Regions from separate parts of the Homo sapiens genome. Here regions 1 and 3 are each linked to region 2. Evidence: fine-mapped expression QTL. A gene starts in region 2. Each other region holds a variant in brackets. All regions are shown on one strand. Distances are between the middles of the regions.

Evidence for each region. PIP is the estimated chance that this variant, and not a neighbour inherited with it, causes the effect.
Region 1: its variant is fine-mapped to the expression of MYT1 in thyroid (GTEx, PIP above 0.99).
Region 3: its variant is fine-mapped to the expression of MYT1 in thyroid (GTEx, PIP above 0.99).

Annotation. Positions count from the first base shown.
Region 1 is chr20:64,223,324-64,231,500 of GRCh38, forward strand. MYT1 (myelin transcription factor 1) reads left to right here. Exons shown (of 23, transcript NM_004535.3): 16 at 1-36; 17 at 4,092-4,154; 18 at 4,565-4,648. Among named protein-coding and RNA genes, the nearest start is that of PCMTD2, 28 kb to the right of the region's middle. RefSeq lists enhancers at 215-1,070, 3,017-3,516. The variant C/G (reference allele first, on the strand shown) is at 4,017.
Region 2 is chr20:64,160,768-64,168,944 of GRCh38, forward strand. It overlaps MYT1 (myelin transcription factor 1), which reads left to right and starts at 3,685. Exons shown (of 23, transcript NM_004535.3): 1 at 3,685-3,972. RefSeq lists an enhancer at 563-2,043.
Region 3 is chr20:64,205,227-64,213,403 of GRCh38, forward strand. MYT1 (myelin transcription factor 1) reads left to right here. Exons shown (of 23, transcript NM_004535.3): 6 at 327-574; 7 at 2,368-3,261; 8 at 5,980-6,114; 9 at 6,822-6,912. Among named protein-coding and RNA genes, the nearest start is that of MYT1, 45 kb to the left of the region's middle. RefSeq lists an enhancer at 6,114-6,613. The variant C/G (reference allele first, on the strand shown) is at 4,272.

The DNA of each region.
Region 1 (8,177 bases), 63 kb after region 2:
CAGAAACCTCATGGCTGCCCACTCTGCTGACCTCAAGTATGTTTGCGCTCCCTGACCTCCTGTCTCTTGGGCGGCACCCTCGCTTTGCTCTCCTTCCATGAGGCTCCTGCCAAAATCAGCCTTCTCCAAGGTGCCAAGCCTCAGCTGGCCCCAGCTCTCCTGAGATGGGCAGAGGGGCAGGGCCGTGGAGGGGCCGATTCTGCTTGGCTGGGGCTGCTCTGCCTGTGTGCACCTGCTCTGAGCTCTGCTGTTTGCCTCTCCGCTGGGGGCTAGGGGTCGCTGCAGGCTCCTGCGCTGCTCTTGACCCATCCCCCACCCTCCAGCCTCTCCTGAAGATCCCCGACAGGGCTGTCTGGGCCTGCTTTCTTACTGCCCTAGAGATTTGGGAAAAGCCCAGAACCGACCAGGGAACGTAAGCCCTGCCGTGGCTCGGCAGGCCACAGGCTGTGCGGCTCTTGCTAAATGAACTGAACGCTGATAATGAAGAGAAAGCTCCTTCCCCTCCCCTCTCCTGTCACGCTCCAGCTGCTTCTGCCTTGGCCCTGATGCCCTCCCCCCATGCTCATGCCTTCTCTTTGCTGGGCTCACCCGTTTCTGCTTCTGTACCTCCCTGCCCCTACCTAACACATGGGCAGGGCAGGCCCTGCAGGCACCAGCTATAGCTTGCTGGACAGTCCTGCACAACCAGGCGCAAGCACCCAGAGGTTTCCAGGGGTCAGTGTCCTCCTGGGGCTGGAGTCAGGGACTGTTACTGCCTTTGGTTTTCATGCCTCCAGTTGTGCTGTGACTCCTCAGCCTGTGTGACCCTGAGCCATGGGGAGCTCCTCCTGGGCACCGGGGCCGAGCTGAGGCCTTGGAGGAAGGGGGTCCCATTCTTGTCTCCTCAGGTCACCTCTCTCCAGGGGTGTCCCTCCCTCCCATAGGCCTCTGTGTTGGGGGCCCTGAATCCAGGTCAACACACCCTGGCTTATTCCATTCTGGGGCCAGACAGGATCCTGGGCACTGGTGCCTCTAAGATGAGGAAATGAACTTGCTGAAGGCTTCTAGGGACCTTGGCTGGCTCAGACCTGGACAGAAAGCTCTAGGTCTCCCAGAGCCCCCACCAGCAGCCTTGTCTCTGTTCCCCTCTGGAGGCTGGTCTGGCCCCAGCAGCCAGGAGGAGTGTGTCATGAGGCCCTTCAGTTCCCACAGAGTGGGGTGCAGCATCTAAGTTTCCTTCCTGGAAGTTAATAGCTTCAACATAAGCATTTTCTGAGGCTGAGATCACCACAGCAGCTGCACACATTGACTTATTCATTCATTCTGCCGCCCACTTTGTCTAGTCCTAGAAACCCAGGAAACACTCAGTCCTGCAGCTTCTGGGACTGTCCTCTCTCCCTCTTTCCTTCTTCTCTTGCCATCTTTCTTGCATTCCTTTTTCCTTTTCCAATTCTGCTTTCTTTTCCGTGATTAGTCTCCATGGTTTTTCCCATTTGGGCCTGAATAATTTAAGAGGAGAAATGTGGCTGCAGGCACTCAGTGGCCCCAAATGTCACCATGTCCTTTCTGTCCTGTGAAGTGGATGCTTGGGCGGATGAAAGGAGCTTGGCACAGTTCGGGCCTGGAGACATGGCCGTCTGGGAGAGTTAGTGCTTTTTTAAGACTAAGAGCCTGTGAAGAACCTTAACGCCAAACTTCTTTAGAAATAACGACCAAAAGCCTCCCCTGTGTGAAAGTGAACCGCTCATCAGCATCAGCAGGGTTTGGGCAGGCAGCCACGGCCTCCAGGCTCCTTCAGAAACTCCACTCTCCCCCAGGGGCCTTTCCATGGGAGGCCACTTCCTTTCCTCCCTCCGACCACTGCATGAGCTTGGGACGATGGTGGTCTCCCCCCGCCACGTGTCCTGGTGTACCAACCTCCTTGCTCTCTGCCACCTCCTGTGTGAGGCGGCATCGGGCACTGGCCCCTCCTGATCAGCCTCGTGGCAGCCATGGGTGACGGTGGCCTTGGGACAAACGAGGTTCCTTTCATGACTTCCCTGTCCGCACCTGGCTGCAGCGACAGTCAGATGATGTGTGTTCTGTGTTTTAAGTGAATCCCAAGGGCGTTCACTCTTCCCTCCCATGTGTCTGATGTGGTCAAGGGCTGTGAGGACATGGCCGCCTCGGGCCACTCAGCTCATCTTGTGTTGGGAGTTGAGCTGCAACCACACACACCTGCCAGGGCATGACAGGCTTTGTGCAGGGTGAAGAATGCCTGTCCACAGCACGGGGATGGGGCTTAGAGAGGTGAGACCTGGTGTGTATTGCCAAGGTAGAGGGTGCCCCTCAGACACGGTGTTCCCTTCTGCCCAGATGGGGCACTCAGAAGCAGGTGGTGGGAGGGGTGGATGTGGCTCCAGATTCCTGCAGCTGACCCTGGGGGTCCACAGAGCCATGAGGGGCATGCAGAGGGGACACCTGCTCCTCTGACTATGTGAGTACTTTCCTCTCTGGGACACAACTCTTGAGAAAAGCCATTGAATCGGGCCTTAGTGAGGACTGCAGGATGGCCCCCCCTGTGTGTTAGGTACTGCCGGCCCCTTGGGAGTTATACCCCCACCTGAGACTCACTCACAGATGCCATCGGGAAGTATCTCCTCTGCTGTTGATGCCACTCACAGTCCAATGCTGTGCTTATCCCCGTTGAGGCCTAGAGCTGCTGTGGGTCTGTCACTCTGGCCACCTGAGTGGCCACTTGCCCACCGCACTGAACCTGAGCTCTACCTGATGCTTTGCTGCCACTGAGACAAGGAGCTGGAGCCCCAAGTGGCCACTTGAACAGCTGCCAACCCAGGAAGGAGAGGCAGGCCATCTTCAGTTCTCTTGGCTGGCCAGCAAGGTATCCAATGTGTGGCCCACAGGGCAAGGATGAAGGAATGTGAGGCTCCCCAGGAGGGCACCCCAAAAAAACTCCTAGGGGCCGAAGAGAAGGTTGCAAGAGGTGGGGCCAGCCCTGCTGTGCCGCCACAGCCCTTTGGGTGCCAGGCTGTGCCCGGCTTCATCTTCCTCCAAGCGAGGAGATGTCCTGTCCCAGTGGCCGGATGTCACATGTGCTGGTGGAAGACTCCGGTGAGGAAGGGCCAGCAGCATGGAAAGTGAGACGTCCTCCCTGGGGTCTGAGCACCACTGCAAAGTGCCTTTGAGCAGCAGGTGATCTGGACACAAGCACTGAACTCTTGCCTGGCTCCTGCAGGGTCAGGGGTCAGGAGGGGTGAGGCACAGAGAGCAGGCCTGACGGGGGATGGATCTACCCGCAGAATCAGGTCACCTCCTCCCACTCTCTAACATCAGCAGGAACTCACATATTTTTTCCTCAGTGGACATTCGGAAGAAAATAACATCCGTGCTTGTAATATTAAAGTGGAATTTTGTACCACCTTATGTGATACATTCGTCAAATAGTTTTGGGTGTGTAAAGTTGGACTTTTGTGTTTCTCCTCCTTACTCTCTGCTGTAAGCCACTGGCTGTGTGAACTCTGCAGTCATGCTATACAACAGCCAGGCCTGGCATGGCCAGCGCCATCTGCTCTGCAGCAGGTGTGCAAAAAGGCCTCTGTTCATTTACCAGCCCATGGTGGCCACGCTTTGTGAGGGCAAGCTCCCAGCCCATCCAAGAAGATGAACTGGTCTTAGGCTGTGCTTCAAGTTATGGCTCAGATATGCTCTGAATGCCTTTAGTCCAGACCGGACCCTACAGAAGTCCAAGCTGGGAGCCCTTCGTGTCCTTGGCTGCAGTGGACCCTGTAGGCCTGTCCCAGTGCCCAGGTTTGGTGTCTGGGTGTAAACCGATGCTGGAGCAGCAGTTGGCTGCTCTCCTCTCAGACTTCCTGGTCTCCCTCGGGGAGACGGGGGAGCAAAGCACTGAACCCCTGAGATGATCGCATCAGACCCCTGTTGCTGGCAGTCGGCAGCCGGGGTGAACATCGGCGATGCTCCTCTGCGGACAAGGGAATGTGGGTGGGCGCACTCAAGGGCTGAGCCCAGAAGGCTTTCCT[C/G]TGGGGGTCCCAGGGCTCTGGGCCGGGGCTAAACGCCTTCACGGGCTCCCGTTCCAGTTCTGCTTCCCTCTGCAGGTGCCCCACGCCCGGCTGTGACGGCTCTGGCCACATCACAGGGAACTACGCTTCACACCGGAGGTGAGCCTGCCACACCCTCAGGTCCTGGGCCCCAGGGGTGGGCAGGGAGTCTCTTCCTTATATGAAGATTAGAAGACACTAATGTTGCTGACAGCTAGAGTCCATTCCCATCTCTTTAATCTGAATTGTTGCCATTTCCAGAACCTGATTAAGTTGTCCTCTGCAGTAAGATAAAAAGACAAGGGGTCAGGGCTAGGGGCTCGTGGTAATGCTTCTCCTTCCCGACCCTGCTGCCTCGTGTGAAGGCTGTGTCTGTGGATTCTGCTTCTTACAACTGACCCATCGGTTGCCCTCACTCCCTCCCACCCCACCCTGGGGTCACAGAGCTTGAGGGGAGAGGGTGAGATGAACGGGTGTGAGAAGCTGCGGTTCCAGCACTAAGGTGGCCTTTTTTCCTCTTTCGAAATCAGCTTGTCCGGCTGCCCTCGTGCAAAGAAAAGTGGAGTCAAGGTGGCACCCACCAAGGACGACAAGGAGGACCCCGAGCTGATGAAGTACGTTGGGCCATGCTGGCTCTTTCATTGCATTGCGGAATTGAGATTTTCGTGTGTTTTATAATGTAAAAAAACTCCTACTAGATTCCCTTTTCATTAATACAACGGGTCACCTAACTGACCAACGCCAACTTTCGTTTCTTTCATTTTTATGGAAGCTCTCATACGCTACACGTTGATACCTGTGAAGATAGGAGCCCTGGATGTCGCGTGGAGGGCATGGGTGCCAGATTTTCTGGGCTTTTCAGGTCTGGAGTATTTGACGGGGCTGGGAGAGGCAGAGCACCCTTCTACCTATGTCTTAGGGCCACCTGGGAGTGGGCCCCAGGGCCTTGCAACCTGCAGAATTTGTCTGGCAGGAAAGGTGAGATGCAGGAGTCAAGGAGGAGAAGGTGGTTAGAACAATGTTGAAGCTCCAAATCCCATGTGTCCATCCACCCACACACCTGTGCAGAGAGCTGGTAGATTGAGAGAGCCAGGAGGATCTAAACTGGGAGCCAGACACTGTTGGGTGAAGGAAAGAGGACATCTTGGGCCTTAAGTGACCCAAGTCCTTGAGGAGAAAAGATTCTCCTCTATTGCTCTTCTCACTGGGGCAGGGTGGGGGCTCGTGTGTCTTTGTGGGGCTTATAGGTGAACCCTGACTCTGTGTGTTATCCTACTTGGTGGGGGTTTGTGTCCTTACAAGCTTATTCTCCCAATAGGGAACGGGTCCCCTGCACTGCCCACTTTTAGGTGGGGGGAATGCTTTGCTACAGACTCAGACCAGGTGACCCACTGGCCATTTTGCCCAGGACCGAGGTACTTTCAGAGCTGACATCTGGCAAAATGGGCAGTGGGTTCCCCAGCAGGTGAGCAGAGTGGAAATGATGGCTCTGGACACCTTGTTGCCCAGGGTTAGGGGCCGGCTCGGTCGGGACGGGGCCCTACTATGCCCGCAGGAAGCAGGTTGCCCTCGTTGTGTTACCTGCTGGGCCAAGAGCAGCCAGACCTCACGCCCGGGGAGGGGCAACTTGGCCTGAGATTGGGTTGCTCCTCCTGGTAGTTTGCTCCAGCTGTGCCCAAACACCCGGCCACACTGGAGGAGCCTAATTGACCAACATCACATCCTTCAGACGGGGATGGGCCCACCAGCTGTTTGGTGTAATAGGCTGTGGCTTGTTTATTTATTTAATTTTTACAATAAAACTGTAATGAATGCTAAATTAACAATGCAAAATTTTGGTTGTTAGTACTATGAAGGTCGCACACTAAATGCTGAGGTGGATAAAAAGCATTTTGCCCCTGAGAATCCAGGAATTTGCCTATGATCATATAAGTGCAACACCTTTATGGATTTGGCAAGGATCCTGCTGGCAGGGATATTATAAGTGAATCGTGCTGCATTTGCAAATGATTAAAATCAAGATCAGCATTTTTCAAATTAACCAGGAAAAATGGTTTTCCTTTCTAATGTGCTGTCAACTGAGCTTTAAAAAAAAACAAGAGTTCTGCAGCCGAGTGGAGACTGTGACTTTCAGAAACACTTCAGCATTTGCAGGATAGAGGAAGGTCCTAGAGGCTCCATGGCAGAGGGAACCTGACTACTGAACCCTCCGTTTTACAGGGTTCCTTCCCAGCCATAAACTTTAACTGCACTTGTAATTGCCTAGCATATTTAAACAGATGCATATCAAAGCAGAAACTGGAATGGATGTGTCAGGTCATGCTGAGGGATGGGATTTCGTCAGCATGCATGAGCTGTGATTTGGGGAGCCTGGTGGAACAGGAGTCCTTTTTATGATATCTCCTGCCTGCGCTATTTAAAATTAAGTCACATCAGGCGCTTGGTGGTAAATCCCTTTGCCACAGCTTTATAACTGGTCATAAAAGTCTTGCGGAGGTTCCAGCATGGGAGTCAAGAGGTGAATGCTCCCCTTGCCCTGCCCACTGTCCCTGGAGGGGACTTCTGGTCCTGGCCATGTTTCTCATGTCACTGGCACACACGGCTTCTGCCCCCCAACACGTGATAGGAAACACTAGCTCACCCAAGAAGCACAGAGGCCTCACCAGCTCAGTGCCTGCCCCCACCGCCCCAGCACCTCTCAACATGATGTCCCTGACAGCTTGAAAGTCTCCACACCAGGTTTTGTGAGAAAGAGAACATACCTGAAATCTGAAATCCTCTCCATGTATGCGATTCAAGGGAACAAAAACAGTTTCCCTTGATGAAGGGGAGTAGTGTTTTGCAAGAAAGGGAGTGAAAATAACTCAGATTTGGGCCGGGCACTGTGGCTCATGCCTGTAATCCCAGCACTTTAGGAGGCTGAGGCGGGTGGATCACCTGAGGTCAGGAGTTCGAGACCAGCCCGGCCAACATGGTGAAACCTCATCTCTACTAAAAATACAAAAATCAGCCGGGCGTGGTGGCGGGCGCCTGTAATCCCAGCTACTCGGGAGGCTGAGGCAGGAGAATCGCTTGAAGCCGGGAGGCGGAGGTTGCAGTGAGCCAAGATTGTGCCACTGCACTCCGGCCTGGGCAACAAGAGCGAGACTCCATCTCAAAAATACTACTACTACTACTAATAATAATTCAGATTCGACTGTGTAGAGTAGCTGAAGAGCCAGCCACCCCCCATTTGGCCACAGAGCCTCTTCCCAGCCAGTCTGTGCCTGGTGCAGGTGTCCCCCAGGGTCCCATGGCTGGGCCATCCCCATCAGAGGGGGGCTGGACATTGAATGTGAACTTCCCAAAGCTCCCATAGGGGCCCCTGGCAGTGTCTCTGCTCTGGACGGGGATGAGGTGACCTCGGACTGGCTCAGGGAATGTCCTAAAAGTTTCTGAGGGCCAGGTGGGTGGGATGAGTAACAAAGGGAAAAGAACCAAGAGAGGGGCCTGTGGAGAGAGAGAAAGCAGGGTCCTGGCCGAGTTGGCTGGGAAGGGTCTGAAACGGCAGCTTCAGAGACGAGGCCAGAGTGTGGGGGCAAGGAGCCGGACGCTGCCCTCCCTGTCCAGGCCTTGTTGACCTTCCACTGGGCAGCGCAGCCCTGAGCCGCCTCTCACCCCTACGGCGGGAGCCTCTGCCCCCGCCCCCGCCCCCTGCTACCGTCCTCCCGAGCGCTTCCTGCGCTGACAGTGACTTCCCTGTATGCCCATGAATCTCCTCGTAAATGGAGCCATGGTGACCTCTCGGGGTCTTGTGTTGCCAGGTAATCAGCACACAGGGAGTGTGTGACAAACGGTAATTTGGATGAGTTTCATTTATGAAGAGATAAGAATGAGCCTTGCAGATTGAAGATCTTGTCCTGGGTTTGGCGTGGGTTCCTGGATGACGTGGTCCCTCAGCTCCCCAAGTCCTGGTCCAGGTCCTTCCCTGAGGCAGTGGGGACAGACACTCAGAGAGGTCATGGGCCTGGGCCCTCTGCGCTGTCCTGTTTGTCTCTGACCCACACTGAGCCCAAGGCATTTGCCAATCTGAATTTATGTTATTTTCATAAGGGCCTCTATCCCTCTCCTGGAACACCCAGAACGAAGGAAAGGAAAACACCA
Region 2 (8,177 bases):
TTGCAGAAGTGCTGACGGCACAGAGCCCTGTGAACGCTGCCCTGCAGAAGGTTGGAGGTGGGAGGGCGGTGGGCAGGGTGTGTGCAGAGGCCAGCTGGGCCTTCTTTCTGTTGATTTACCTGCCTGGATCTGCCTGGCAGGCCATATAGCTGGTGGGTGTCAGGAGCCCTTGGCCTGGAGCAAGGCTCTGTGAGACTCTGTGAGAAGGTGGCAGAGAGAATGTGTGTGCGCGCGCGCGTGCGCGCGACAGATGTCCCCTGGGACTTAACTGTAGCTAAGGGGCTTTGGCCAGGGCCGCTGCTGCTTGCGTCCTCATCACACTCAAAGTTGCTGTGTGTGTGAGTGCACGTGTGTGAGTGTGCATATGTATGTGAGGGTCTCACAAACTGGATGCCAAATGTTTGTGAGCGTCTGCGTGAGTGTGAGACAGAAACACAAAGTCAGCCCCGAGTGTGGCGGAGAGTGGATCCCGGTTTTGTTTGCTCCATCTGCCAGGGCCGGCCTGGGGCAGCACCCCCGCCCTCAGCTGTTCTATACAATATTAATGCTCACCATCTCGGCCTCACACAACGGCCCTAATTGTCGTCTGCAGCATTAAGGCAGGCGCCCATCTGCGGGGAAGCTTTCAGAAGGAAACAAGAAAACCCTCACCCCCAGCTGGTCACCGGAGAAGGTGGTGCCAATTACAGATGCAGAAAGTTTAGACCAAAATTACTTGAAAGAGTTTTTATGAAGCAAATGAACTGACACTTGGAATGTCTGTGTGCAGATTTGCACAAGTAATTACACTTTATTTGAAATGATCTTACCAGCTAAGCGATCATTAAGCCTGCTCCCCCACTCACACAAAGCGCTTTCTCAGCGAGTGCGGCTGCGGCGTAAGTTTGGTTTTGCAAATCTCCCGTTTCCCTCCCCGTGTGGAGTCTGAGGACCCGCCAGTCAGACAGGAGTTATTTCCTGGTGGATCTTTCCAAACATATTATTAAAAAGTCACATGTGACTTTCCCACAGACTTTTATGAAATAAAACCCAAAGGAACAGCGTGCAACATGCTCAGTTATGGAAGAGAAAATATTTTATGATTTCAAAAAGTCCTGACAAATTTTCACCCTCTCTAAGAAAGGAAGCTTAAGACTATACCTTGCTGTTGTCACTTACAAGCAGGGATCTGTTGGGGTTTGGAATTCTCTGTCTCAGCCCGGAGCCCAGAGTTCAGCGATAGCTGAATACTGGTGCGAGCTCAGAAGCTTCCGTGTGCGGAGAACAAAGACTGAGGCGCTCTGGGGGGAGAGCGCTGTCCGAAGTGCTGATCAGACTTCGGATCCACCCACCGCTCAGGCCGCCTCCCAGGGGCTGAAGGGCGGCAGCCGAACCGGAGAGACGTGCCGGCGGCCGCTCTTCTGTCCTGCTCTTTTCCCTGGACTCCTTTGTCTTGACGGGGTCAGCTAAAGACTTCGAACCTTTACTCATCAAAGCTCATCTTCGGAAACTGCTCATAGCACTTTAACCTCCCGGTGGGAGCTCCCAGGGCGCCCTAGGTCCTGCCAGCAGGCACCGATTTCAAGTTTCCAGGCACATTCTGAATGCTCCTCCTGGCAGCGCCACAGAGGGTCTGGGGGCCCATTCCCGACCCCCGGAGCGCCACACCTCAGGAGGCCTGTGATTGTTCAAAAGGGGAAGTGAGAAATGCCGAAAGACTTACGTTTTCACAAATACAATTTCTATTACCTGAAAAAACTGTTGTGCCCCACGAAGCCCGTGTTGCGCAGGTTCATCTCTCCTGCTGCCACCTCCGCTTCGCTGTGGTTTCTTAGGTGTGACTGTTGCATATCTGAATTAAGTCGCTTTCATGAAACCTTGGGTGTCGTTGGGAAATAAGGCTGATTCAGCAACGGCCCTCCCTTTGATTCTGTATTCATCATGGAACAATGGCCCGCAAGCCTGCCCGGAGCCTGCAGCCTGCCGATAAGAGTTTAATAGAATTTCTGAATGCCGAAGGTTTGGGGTGTAAGACATCCTAGCACTCACAGCATGTCCAGAGGAGACAGAAACGGCTTTTCAGGAGTGCTCTCAGCTGAATGTGTCCTTTTATACTAATGGATATAAGTTTATGACAGAAATTAAAAATGGTAGGCAGTCATTGTGGAAACCTCGAACTGTTCTCATTTGACTAATTAATATTTCATCCTCAGTTTGACCAGTGCAGGCTTGCATTTATGTCCTTGTGCTCAATCTGAACAATTGCTCTGTGTGCATTTTGTGTTTTATTTGTTGAGGATAATGTGTGCGTATAAGAATCTAAGATACTTGCCTTTGGGGTGAAGCTTTTGGTTTGTATGTAACGTGTAAAGCACAAACTGTATGTTAAAAATAAGCCACTAAGATTTTCAAAACATGCTCTCTTAGAGAAAGCTGTGTTCAGTTCTGCCTCAGTCACACTTTTGGTGGCCCGAGCCCTTTAGCGCTAATTAAGTTGGGGTATTGTGCTCTTGCATAATTTACCAAGAAATGATGTTTACTGTCTGTTGAAATCTCTGCACTGAACTTCTGAGATGTGAGTTTTCTGCTTCTCCAGCTGCCCTTGGACGGCGGCATCTTTGCAGGCGTCTCACATTGAGTTTTCACCCTTGTGTTTCACAGTTTCATTTCTAACATCCTGATTATGATAATGGACAATCGTTTGCCTGATTTATCAGTACAAGAAGGAGATTTGGGCCGCAAACAAGAATACTCTGGCTCTTGAGTTCTCTTACTGAAGAAATTCCCACTTTATCCCTGAATGTGGGGGAAAATATCACAAACTGGCAGATGAGAAGGCAGACAGTCAGGCTGCATAGAGAGTGGGTGAGCACTTCTATTGTGTGTGTTATGGATTTTTCTCTTCTTGATTTTCACTGGATAGCTCCTTTCAGGCCGTTTATAAAAGAATCAGGAAAAGAGCAGAAAACTTGGGCAGTGTGCTTCGCTCTGGTTGCAATAAACTTAGTCTTTTTGTGGGGGGGTTCCCATGCCCAGGAATCCCTGAGTTCTCTTTGGGAAGGTTTTTATTATTGTAAAAATTAAAGTGAAAAGGGAAAGTGTGAGAACAGAAAAATGTCTTTTCCTGATCTATTCTTTGTGTGCATGACTCTATTTTTTGGTCTGTGGCTATAGTTACCTTTTATGCCGTTAAAAAATACATATCCATTTAAGTCAGGGGTACTTGAATATGCAGATGAGCCGATATGTAATATTCCTGGTTCATTTGAGTAATAAATTCTGCAGCCCGCTCTTTATGATGGTAGATCATATTCCTCACCACCAATAAATATTGTAAAGTACTTTCGCTGTAGCCATGCTAACCCGGGGCATCTGTCATTCCGGTTGCTGCTATTAGGAATTATTGGACTGAACCACTGGCAGAGAAAGCAGAGGGGGGTGAATGTGGTGGTTGTGATGCTCTCTGCCCTTTTGTGTGTTTTGCTTTTTAAAAAAACTCAATCATGCTGCACATTGAGTATGAATCAGTGTGGACAAACATAGGCACCTTCTGTTGGCCGAGGCTCAGAGCAGGACACAGGACTCCACCGGACTGGGACACCTCTCACCCCCAATTCAGCAGATCCATCTTTCTGATGCTATACTGTAAATTTATTTCACCTCAGAGAGTAAACAGATATATTGGAGCCCCAAGGGTTCATGGGTAGCGTATTTACAAAGGAGCCTCCTCCGCCAGCCCGTGCCACCGCTGCTAATGAGAGCAGTCATTAAGTAAATGAGACGTCGCCTTTAGCTGGCTTAGGAGTTCGCACACTAAGGGGAGAAGATATTTAATTGAAACCCGCACGCAGGCTTCCCCACATGTGACCGCTGTACGGGAGGCAGCTGCCTTCCCTCTCCTCCCCCAGTCCACCCTGCACCCCCCATGTAAATTTCATGATTGCTTTCCGTGATGTCATTTTGAAAGAGGACAGACAATAGCTGTGGGGAAAGGTAAGTCAACGTTACGTTCTTTCTGACAAAGGCAGATACCCAACGCTTGGCTTTTCCTCTTGGACAGAGACAGGGAGAGGGCGCGCGGGCAGAGTTAATTTCTAAGATGAAGGCTCTGTTTGCAGGAAAAGCAGGTCTGAGGATGGCTTTTTGAAACTGCTCTGGAGGACGGGGGCTTTCTTCTCCTCCCTGGCCTGCCGTGTGCTGTTTTTCTCCTGTCTCTCTGTTGTTCATGCTCCTCTGAGATTCCAGGGGACATGTTGTGCGTCTGACAGAGGAGACATTAGGGGAAGGGGAGCGCATATCAAAACCAGAAACTTTATGCGCATTTCTGGAAGAGGAACAACGGATATGTCTGTGGCCGTGGGACCCAGCAGCCCCGTACCTGGGGAGAGCACTGGCCGCTTAAGCAGAAGACCTCTCTGAAGCAGGGTCTCAGAGTCTGGGGTGTGTCATGTGTGACCCCCACCCAAGGTACTGAGGAGAGGTGCTCACGTGAACGTTTTGTCTGCATGTCATGCATTTCTCAACTTAAGGATCAATATCTAGGGTGCATGCGTCTGTGGGATAGATGTGCAGAAGTAAATATCGGCCGCTCCTCTCAGCCCCTTTTTTCGCTACGTGTCCGTGCAGCTGTGGAGTGTGGTTGTTTATGGTGGTAGTGTAACTGGATTTTTGTATTTAAAACTAAAAATCAGGGTTAGCTAAGAAGTTGAACACCCTAATGCCATTGTCTGTAGTTCTGGGGCCGTGGACTTTGGTTCTGTCTATTGAATTCACTTTCTTCTCTATAAACCAGGAAAATAAACAAGTGCTGGTGGCTTTGTGTTGGAGTGGTGGGTTCTCACTGCTCCTCCTGAGTCACCAAGGGCTTTGCTTGTCTCAGCATCACCTTTGAATCAGTGGACACCATTGGCTGGTAAAGTTGGGTGTTTAATTTTGGAAACCAAACATTTGCGGTGGTGCGGGGGGTTCCGTGGCTGCAGGTGGGTTTGGTCCTGGGCATGGACTCTGTCACGATGATGATAATGGCAGCGATGATTATAATTATCCTTTTGGGAGAGGTCGGTGGAGAATTTTGCCCTTGCAGTTTTTTTTTTTCTTTTAAATCACAGAAAACTGAGGACACCTCTAACGCCAGTGGCTGAGTGCACAAAAGGTGGGAGGGATGTGGGGCAGACCTGGGGGGGCCCACTCGGTGCTGAGGGGTATGCTCTGCCTCTGTCTCCTCTGAGGTGCCAGCAGAGCCTGTCCTGGCCTCACTCTGGCCTGGGGAGTGGGGGTGCTGTATCCTCTACAGGGCTGACTGAGGGAGGCTCCCCTCGGCCCCCAGCCTCCCTGCCACCCCGGGCTCCCCTCCCATTGGTCCTTGGCTGTGATTATCGCCTCCTTCCATATGGCCCTGTTAATTAACGGTAAACAAAAGAGTAAGAGAGCAGGGATTGGAGTCCTGTGGTACCAGCCAGGGTGCTGCTATCAGTAGAGGCAGGACCCTGCCCTGTCTCCCTCGGTAGCTGTTCCTTGTGCAGAGGAGGCTGGGTCAGGGCTTAGAGGGCAGTTTGTTTTCAAAGAGAAGGAGGCAGTCTTATGGATTCTTCTGTCCCGTAGAGACTGAGACTCCTACAGGGTCCCCCCGACCCCCTGGGCACCTGGACGTTTGCCGAACTTCCCAGGGGTACTTGCTGATCCAGGAGCTTGAGCAGGAGCCACAGAGAGTTGGACAAAGAGGCCTTTCTGCTCTGGAACAGCCTCGGCTCTGACCTCCTTGGGCCATGAATCCCTGAAGAGGGCCTGGTAGCCCTCTTCAGAGACCCGAGGCAGGGGGGCTGCTTCTGTCCAAAGTGCCACTCGAGGGTTTTTGTGACCCTCAGCCATTGCCCACAGATCTGGAGGTAGCCTCAGTTGTTCAGAGCTAATGCTCTGGCCCCTCTTGGAAGATTCTGGCAAAGGCAGTGGTCACCTACTCCCTTGAATGCCCCTGGTGCATGAGTGGGGAAACACTCTCTGAGATGACCCCTTCTAGCCATGTGGGATGCAAAGTTGCTCTGGTCTGGGGGTTGCAGCAGCCTCTACTTGGAAGCTCTGTTAGTGCCGGAGATGTCAGGGAGAGGCTGGCAGAGGGTATGCGGCCACGGGGGTGCATGCTGGGCAGCTCTGGCAGCTGACCAACGGCAGCCTGGATGGTGGCTGGAGCTTGGCCTGTCCCTGCTGTGGATGTGGTGGGCGCTCTCCCTGGTGCTGCTCAGAGACTCACTCCCTTCCTCTCTGGCCTGGGGTCACTGAATGTGCAGACAATGACATTTGTGGTGGTGTGGTGGGTAGAGGAGACCCACACCACTCTGCACTGGGGAGACAGGGGTCAGAGCCTGACTAACTGTCTTCCTGGTGCTGCTCAGTCTGGTGATGTCTGGGCCGCTTGGAATGCCAGTTTGCACAACCCAGTACTGTGCAGAGAGAGCAGGAGAGGTTCCTGAAGACTGACAAAGTGCCAGAGAGAAACCCGGGGCCTCCAGCCGCTGCTCGGTGGCAGTGGGCGGGCTGGTGGGGGCTGAGCTCTTCCTGGACGGACTCAGTGCAAAAGGTGCGTCTACTTTGGAAAAGACTGAGCAAGGCTTGTGTCCACCCAGTCCCTCTGTCGGGGCTCAGGGTGGGGATGAGACCGGGAACAACCAGAACACTTTGGTCAGCACCGGGCCTGGAGTAGATGAGGAGGTAGAGAACTGACCCAGCTGGTGGAACAGGGGTCAGGAGGTTAGCTGTGGGGTGGGTGGGGGCTGCTGGCGGTCACCTGATCTGCGAGCAGGCAGGGTACTGGACGGTCAGCCAGACTTTCATGTTACTCAGGCATCTTGAAGAGTGGATGCTCTGCCTGTCCCAATGCTGGAAGACACATCTCAGAGCCCCTCTTTTGTTGCCTGTTCTCTTGTAGGAACCTGGGCGGGAGAGTGGAGCAGGGTGCCCGCAGGGGCTGGGGGGGCTCTTCTCTTTCTTCCTCTCTCCCATCTTCCTCATCTTAGATCCTCCCCCTCTGCATTTTCCGTGTGAACTCCCTCATGAATAAACCAGAAGTTAGTTGTCTACAGATGTAATTTTAACAGGAATGTTGTGGTGTGAGTTTACAGGAAAATGGTCTTTGGGAACCAGCATCATTAGATTAGTCAGACCGAGAAACGCCGTGTTTCCCAGAAGGGAAGAGAGCAGTGGCTGCCGTGCTGCTCCCCCGTGGGCTTCCTGCTCTTTGGGGACTGCGGGACCCATCCCCGCTCCAGGACAGCCCCACTGGGGAGCCCACTGCCCAGCCCGGAGTGTCTGCTGGAGGCCTGGGGGGTGGAATGTGCTTTCACGGCCTCTTGAGGTTCCCGGCATTTTTCTGTCTTTCAGACCAAATTTCCCCAAACATCACTTTAAAAAACTCAAAACAAAAATGAGCAAGAGGAATTTCACCGGAATTAAAATGTTTTTGATCTCAGGCTTCCACGGAGCCAGCTTCAGAGAGAAGAGATTAATGGATACTTGCAAGTGGAAAGTGTAGTTTGAAAATGTCTTCCTGTTTCTCTTCAGTGTTACTGGAACTAACCAGATACAAGTGTGGAGTCTTTTCTCCCCAGGGTTAATGCCATTAGGAGCGTTCCTTGTGGGAAGATTGGTTTCACCCATCACTTCATCCTTTTTTTTATTTTACAATTTGCACTTAAAAATGCAATGTTATTTTAATCGGGAACGAAAGTAACTCAGCGTGCTTTAATCTGCCCTGGCTGAGTACATCTGCCTTGGCCAGGATTGGAGTCCAGGCCTTGCAGAGGAGAGAGGATGTCGACACAGCTGTGGGTGTCTGTGGTCCTCCTGCCACCCCTTGTCCTGCAGCACCGGAAGCCTCCACTCAGCAGCCCCAACCTTCAAGAGAGTGACTTTGTGCTCTGGCAACTGAGTGTGTGGTTTGCCCTGGGGTTGCTTGGAGTTGATTGGATATGTTCCCTGTGCCTTGGGGTTTATTTGGGACTGTGGCCTGGGAGCACGGCCTGTGCCAGGAGGGTGCAGGTTGGATGGTCCTCAGGAAGTAGGCTGCAGCGCTCTGCAGGAGTCAGGGTGGCCAGGCAAGGTGGGGGTGAGCACTGGGGATCTGGATGCTCGGGAGGAAAGGTGGAGGCACCATATGGCCTGAGCTGCTGACAGATGAGCCTGCTGGCCCCACCTCTCTCTCACGC
Region 3 (8,177 bases), 44 kb after region 2:
GCAGCGACCTCCCACTCTAGCGTGGAGATCTGTGTGGCCATGGGCGTGCCATGTGGGGGAAGACAGACCATCTGACCTCCCGCGAGGCAGCGACTTCCCACTCTAGCATGGAGGTCCGTGTGGCCATGGGCGTGCCATGTGGGCGAAGACAGACCATCTGACCCCCTAGTGCTGCACTTTGCTTTTTTTGTCCGGGTTCCCTGCAAGGACTGGATGAGTCTGTGGGGAAGGGAGGGAGGGAGGACCCTCGGGAGGGGCTCATGGGGTGTCTGAGGCCTCTCGTGGCCCTAGCCTGGTCCTCTCCACTGCCTACTCCTCCCTCCCAGTTTACAGAGCTGCCCCCTGGCCAAGAAGAGGAAGCTGGAGGGCGCTGAGGCTGAGCACCTGGTGTCCAAGAGGAAGTCACACCCCCTGAAGCTGGCTCTGGACGAGGGCTATGGTGTGGACAGCGACGGCAGTGAGGACACTGAGGTGAAGGACGCCTCTGTTTCGGATGAATCGGAAGGAACTCTGGAGGGGGCCGAGGCTGAGACGTCAGGACAGGACGAGATTCATCGCCCCGAGACAGCTGAAGGTGCTTTGTCGCTCTTTCTTCCCCGAATAAAGGGCGCTTAGTGTGGCCCTGGAGAATTGCAGCCTGTGAGCGGGGAGGGGCTCACTCCGGGCAAGAGAAAGCCCTTCCTGAGAACAAGGCATGTCTTGTCCCAACATGTGCTGGGCTTCCTGGGAGAGAGGTCTGCCCATGGTGTTTATGGGGCCTGTGGTGTGTTTGTGTGTGAACACTGTGTGCGTAGGAGAGAGGCAGGACAGACAGAGACACGGGGCTGGTGTGTGTGTGTGCAGTTGTAGTGTGTTTTGGCAGGTGTGTCTGCATGTATATGAGAGAGACAGACAAGGCTGTGTCTCTGTGTGTCTGTAAGTGGGGAAGGGAGGATCTTAGACTGGCCCTCTGTTCTGCCTGGCCCTCTGGGAGACCTGCCTGGGGGCATGGGTGAGAGGTCTGCGTTCCCCTGAGGTACTCACAGGCAGATGCTGAGGAAACACCTCAGGTTGAGCTTCAGGTGATTGAGGACCAGATGGAGCCTCTGAAGACGGGGTGCCCGGGGAGGCCAAGAGGGGAAGGAGGAAAGCAGACGAGTCCCCCACTTCCTTGTGGGGTCTACCAGGACTGCCATGTTGGAGCTCCTAGCCCTTGGCAAAAGTGCATGAAGCAGGTGCTTTGGCCCCTGGGTCCCGGAGGGAGGGGTCTGTGCCCCTGAGAGCCCTGGCAGATCTGTAGAGACCTGGGGTCAGATGAGGCCCAAGGTCCACTCCCCCCACCATCCCCACCACTCACCCAGCACTCCCCAAGCTTCTGCAGTGGGGAAGGGTCTGAGATGGATTTCAGAAGCAAAGCCAGAGAGGGTCCTCAACCCCAGCTCCCTTGGGGGGCTCTGGAGTGAGTGCGCTGTCCCGTGGAATCAACATAGTCCTAGATCCCAGGTAGAAAAGACACACATTTTCCTGCTTTCTTATCAAGAAGGGCGTCTGGGGTTCAGCTGTCAACCTGGGCTTGGACTTTCCCCTCCGAAGTAGGTGGATGGCAGGGCCCATTCCTACCACTGTGGGACGTGCTGGCCCAGGTGTCCTTGCTGACAACCCTACGGGGCCTGCATGTGGTGAGCACCTACCATATCTTAGTTTCGTTTTGTTTTTGTTTTGAGAGAGTCTCACTCTGTTGCCCAGGCTGGAGTGCAGGGGCACGATCTTGATTTACTGCAATCTCCTCCTCCTTGGTTCAAGGAATAGCTGGGACTACAGGTGTGCACCACCACGCCCAGCTCATTTTTGTATTTTTAGTAGAGACAGGGTTTCGCCATGTTGACCAGGCTGGTCTTGAACTCGTGACCTCAGGTGATCCGCCCGCCTCGGCCTCCCAAAGTCCTGGGATTACAGGCATGAGCCACCGAGCCCATTCTTATTTACTGATTTTCAATTATGAAACAATTATTATTATTTTTTTAAAATCTGACTTGCTGCTTAAGCTCCATTGTATACAATGCAGGTTTATCTGATTTGGGAAAGTAAACGTGATGGGAGAGGAACATTAAGAAAAAGTATCAAAGTAATTCTTAGTTTAAAAAATACATCAGTGGCCCATGACCTGCCTCCTAAAATATATTCACCGTGATTTCTGGATTCAGGCAGAAGGGTTGACAGAAAGGTCCATACCAAATCCCCACTTCTGGAGTTTCATGTTTCCCCTTGGCTCCCGTATAAAGAGTGAGTGGTAGGTCAGGTGGAGGGGTGGTGGGTGTGTTGGGGACTGGAGACCTGGAGTCTTCCCACGTGCTCTCTGGCCCCCACGTTGATTTTGATTTTGTGCAGGAAGGAGCCCCGTCAAGTCCCATTTTGGATCCAACCCCATCGGCAGCGCCACTGCCTCCTCCAAGGGCAGCTACAGCAGCTACCAGGGAATCATCGCAACTTCTCTCCTGAACTTGGGTCAAATTGCTGAAGAGACCCTGGTGGAAGAGGACTTGGGCCAGGCGGCCAAGCCAGGTCCTGGCATTGTGCACCTGCTTCAGGAGGCTGCAGAGGGAGCTGCCAGCGAGGAGGGTGAAAAGGGCCTCTTCATCCAGCCAGAGGATGCCGAGGAGGTCGTCGAAGTCACCACCGAGCGCTCCCAGGACCTGTGTCCCCAGTCCCTGGAGGATGCAGCCAGTGAGGAGTCCAGCAAGCAGAAAGGCATCCTGAGTCACGAAGAGGAGGACGAGGAGGAGGAGGAGGAGGAAGAGGAGGAGGAGGAGGATGAAGAAGAGGAAGAGGAAGAGGAGGAGGAAGAGGAAGAGGAGGAGGAGGAAGAGGAAGAGGAGGAGGAAGAGGAAGAGGAAGAGGAGGAGGAGGAGGCAGCTCCTGATGTGATCTTTCAGGAAGACACCTCTCACACCTCTGCCCAGAAGGCCCCTGAGCTCCGGGGCCCAGAATCACCCAGTCCCAAGCCTGAGTACTCTGTTATTGTGGAGGTCCGCTCGGATGATGACAAGGACGAGGACACCCACTCCCGGAAGTCAACAGTCACTGACGAGTCGGAGATGCAGGACATGATGACCCGGGGAAACCTGGGCCTCCTGGAGCAGGCCATCGCCCTGAAGGCTGAACAGGTGCGCACAGTCTGCGAGCCGGGCTGCCCGCCTGCCGAGCAGAGCCAGCTGGGCCTGGGAGAGCCAGGGAAGGCAGCAAAGCCCCTGGACACTGTGCGGAAGAGTTACTACAGTAAAGGTAGGGCTCAGGGGTGGCCTGGCCCTGCAGACTCATCCTTTCACCCCTGCCCCAGGTGTGCAGATGCAGGCTGAGAGCCCTTCTAGGACAGGGGGCTGGGGGATGGCAGAAAAGCAGACAAAAGGACAAATACATGACACAGACTGTGGTCAGATACTGAGCAAATGGGTTCCCACACTGCTTTACATAGAGCGATCTGGAGCGAGACACAGCGGAGACGTGTGAGAAAGAACCAGGTGGGAGAGAGGAGGTGGGAGGGACAGTGACCCACCCACAGTGACTGGTCACAGCAGCATCTGGGGTCTGGAGAGGGTGGGGACCGTCCTGTCCCTTCCACCCCAACTCACACTCGTGGCAGGGATTGTGCTATGACAGAACCCGCTGTTTCCTACAGCCATGCTGGGTCATCCTGATCCTCTCGTGGGGTGGAGACCAGCAGGCAGATGTGAGGGGTGCCCTTGCTCCTCAGAGGGAGCAGCCTGCCGCTGGCTCTGCATCTGTCTCTGGATTTGGCTCTAAAGTGTGCAGGGTACAGGGGAGCCATCCCCTGATCGCACGGAGTGGCTGATGTTGAGGTGAGGATAGACAAGGAGGGCTGCTTGGAGGGGCCTGGGGCTGGGCTGACGTGGTTGGGGAGCAGCTGGGAAGCAGCTGATGTGGTTGGGGAGCAGCTGGGAGCCTGGAGTGCTGAGGTCTGAGGACGAATCCTGAGTAAACGGTTACGGCCTTCATTGTTACTGGGGTGTCAGGGTCTGGACAACAGGCTGGCTCTGCTCTGCTGACTGCCCATCTCAGATTCCTCCTGGGACAGGGGTCTGGGGAGCAGGGCTGGCCAGGGGCTGCTCCCTCAGTGAGCCATGCCAGGGAGGCCAGGCCTTGGACAGGTCAGCTTTGACCCAGCCGGCCTGGTGCGGAGGGCCTCCTGCACCTGGGCACTTGGCCTCTATTCTCCTAAGACTAGGGACCTGCCCTGATCTCGGCCTCTTTTTTCCCCATGTCTAGTCCTGCAT[C/G]TCTTCTCCAGGTGGACGGGGGCAGTGGGAGTTCTTGGTGCTCTTCCAATGAGTGCCCCCAGGAAGAGTTAGCTGAGACCAGGGAGGGAGCAGATAAGGAGAGAGAACTGGGATGGGAGATGACTCAGGTGCTGGAGCCACGAACCAAAAATGCAGGAGACACGGAATTGCCAACCCTGGGAAGATGCACTTGGGTCATGGGAGAGACAGACCTGAGTGAGACATAATTCAAGGGGCATGATAGGCAGGTCAGTGGAGACACGAGGGACATGTTTTCCGGGAACACCAGGCATATGAGACAAGCTCAGGGGAAAGATGCTAAGGGGACACAGGTGGGGACATGGTTTCAGGGTGAGATGGACCCAAAGAATGGCTTTGCGGGGACACCCTTTAGGGCAACCCAGATGGCGGGACAGCTCTTTGGGGACCCAGATTTAGGTCGGCAGTGTCATGCTCCGGCCTTGTGGGGCCATGGGCACAAAGAGACACAGGCTGAAGGTGAGACTTAGGGACAGGTGTCAAGGGCCCGGGGTGGTTACTAGCCTGGCTGTGGTGTGCTTGGGCCGCACAGATCAGCGCAGAATTTGGTGGGACACATATGAGGAACACAGACACCAAGTGACAGCCCTAGGCCCAGGTTTTTGAGGGTCTCAGACCTGTGGGACAGACATAGGAGGACCCAGATGCAAGGCATCCTGCCTTCAGGGATAGATTTTCAGTGCATGGACCCAAAGGGACACGGCCCCGGGTGACACAGGTGGCCAAGCTGAGAACACCAGGCAGTGCCCAGCTGGGCTGTGAGTGTCTGTGCAACGTGAACGTGCGGTTCTGGTTCTGAGGGACTGATGTTGGGGCACAGATGCTGCGAGAATTCTGGACAGAGGCCGTGGGACAGGGGTGGCAAGCCCAGGAGGCCGGTGTTGGGCACGGGTTTGGAAGCCCCTCAGGACACCCCTGCCTGTCCACATGGGTGGAAGTCTGACTCCTTTGAACTTGGGGCAGCAGAGCAAGAGCTCCTTCCCTTTGGAGCCCCCTCCTGGGACCCTCCTGCTCTGAGGTGGGAGTTCTGAGTTTGGCTCTGTGACCTCTGCACCCTCCCAAAGGGGACAGCTCTCGTCCAAAGGTGTTTCACTGAGATGTCAGCTCTGCTCTGAGGGTCCTCCGTGTTCCTGCTGGTCCCTATACTCTATAGTGACCGGCCTGGACCTGCAGAGGCTAGAAGAGGTCGATAACTGAGATTTGGGTTTACATTTCTGCCCAGGCATAGATTAGTCATGCAGCCTTGGATAAGTTACTCAACTCCTTTGTCTTCCTCGTTTTGTCAAATCCCAAGGATATCTCCTGGCAGGAATATTGCCAAACGCCTTGACCTCTCTAGGCAGAAGGCTGACCCATGAGGCCTCCACACTGTCAGAGGAGAGAGGAAAGAGGACTCCAGCGGCCGTCTGGGTTGTTCTCCTTAAAACGCTGCACAAACTGCTATTTGGGATTGTCAGGGCAGCCTCAGGGCTTCCGCACAGGCAGCCAGTGTGGGCTGGTTTCTTCAGGGTCTCCTGACTGTCCAGCCCCAGTCCCTGTTCAAGCTCATGGGCAGTCTCGCCTCCCTTCTCTCTGGACAGCCAGAGAGAGGGTTCCTGAGCTACCCCTGCCCCCTCTCTGCTCACCACCCAGCTTCCTGGCTCTAACTGATGTGACTTGTGTGTTTTAGATCCTTCAAGAGCTGAGAAGCGTGAGATCAAGTGTCCAACACCAGGCTGTGATGGCACTGGCCACGTTACCGGGTTGTACCCTCACCACCGCAGCCTTTCTGGCTGTCCCCACAAGGATAGGATCCCCCCAGAGAGTGAGTAGCTCTGTGCAGCGTTAGCCCTAACTGTGAAGCTCACGCTGCCTCTGTGGTGTTTGGGTGGTGTCTATGGGGAGGCGTGGCCTGCCCAGGGCCATAACCTTCCCCTTTGGTTTGTCCAGATGCTCATCCTTACATCTCCCCGCTTTCCCCCACAAACTCCCTCAGCCCAAACTTGAGCCCTTTGAGGCTGGGGCCCTGCAACCAGCCCATTTGTCTACCTAGAGACGCCAGTCCGGGTCAGAGCCCACAGTAACAGATCGATGGGAGGGGGACAGGCTAGTGCCATCCAAGCTGGGAAGGGAGAGGTCTTCTTGCAGCAACCTCTGTGCCCTGAAAGCTTAGGAAGCAAATACTTGTTCTTATGTTTAGGCTAGAAGCAGTAATTGTGAAAATTAAATTTAAAGGAGCAAACCACAGAATGAGAGGTTTTAAAGCTGAGTCTGGTTTCTGCCGCAGGAGGGAGGGACCACAGTGGTGGTGGCGGTGGGGGGCATGCCCTGACCAGGCTGAGGGTGGGGAGTTGTGTCTGCAGGCTCTTGGGGGCTGGAGCTGCCCTGCGTTGCTGTGTCCCCCACCTGCCTACCAAGCAGCAGCCTTTGGACAAGGCTCCTGCACCCTCCTCAGCCTGTGCTCCCCACACAGCTGGCGCTCCCCAGATTCTCTGACAGCCTCGGCTCCCTCCACCCCCTGTTCTCTTACAGTCTTAGCCATGCATGAGAACGTGCTGAAGTGCCCCACTCCTGGCTGCACAGGCCAGGGTCACGTGAACAGCAACCGCAACACGCACAGAAGGTACTTGGACTGAGCTGGGCCGTAGTGGGGGCCAGGGTGGGGGCCGTGGTGGGGGCCAGGGTGGGGGCCGTGGTGGGGGCCAGGGTGGGGGCCGTGGTGGGGGCCAGGGTGGGGGCCGTGGTGGGGGGCTCCACGTGGGGTAGGGCACCTGGGTTGGGCCTGTGTGTCCCTGCCTGGGCCGTGAGCCCGTGACCTGGGACGGGGCTCTGGCCTGCCTGGGGCTCCCTGTGTGCTACCCTTCTCCCAGCCTGCCGCCCTGAGGAGTGGGTACAAGGTCAGGGCACACCTGGGCGGTGAGGGGCCTTTGTGAGGGCAGAGTGGCAACTGGAGGTGCAGTCACCCAGTGGTGTTGCTGCCTTAACCCTACGAGCTCCCGAGAGAGCAGGGGGCGGCCTGCAGAGGAGGGAGCAATGCACCCTCTGTGAAGAGAGGTACAACAACCATGTGAGAGCCAGGTGAATACTTTGTGTCCTACCCACATTCAGAAAACCTCTGCACACTGGCTCTTGCTCCTGAGTGGGAAGGGCAGACATGAACAGTAACCTCGGCAGGCCAGGACTGTGCTCTGGGCTGCTTTGTGGGAGTTCTGAGGCCCAGGTGGAAGTGAAGCTTCCCGACCACCCTCGAGGTGTAGTTGTTGACTGGTCTTCTATGGTGAGGGGGGACTACTCCTCCAGCCTTACCCTAAGTGCCATGGGTGGCCGTGGCCTCGGTGGGATATGCTTTCCCCCAGCAGGCTTATGCTCAGCTGAAAGGACTGCCAGAGCTTTTGAGGTCACTTCATTTGAAAAGAGGCCAGTTCCCCATTACGTCACCTCCCTGGGCTGGCTGAGGGACTGGCGCTGGAGCTCACAGTTAACTTTATTCTGACAGATGAAGCTGCTGCCTCCGTGTCTTAGACTGAGTACTTTCCTGGGCCTGTGTCATCCAGGGTCAGTGCCCAGGCTGTGGTCCAAGTGGGGCCCTGGGCTGCCCCAGAGCAGCTAACAGAACAAGCGCCAGAGAGGGCTGCAGAATCCAGCCCTGCAAGCTGGGAAGGGAGAGGAAGGGGGTGAGGGCAAGCCTGTCTCCCAGACCCATGCAGAGGAGGCATCTTTGCCCAGAGCTTTCAAGGCCTTTAGGATATATTTCATCTTTGTGTGTCCTTGGCATAGAATGTTCCAAAACAGAAACTGACTGGGCAGCTTGTACTGTGAGGGCTCAAGAACAGAGCCAGAGAGAAAACCCCTGTCCTGCAGAATGACAGGGTTATTCCCGGCTCTGGG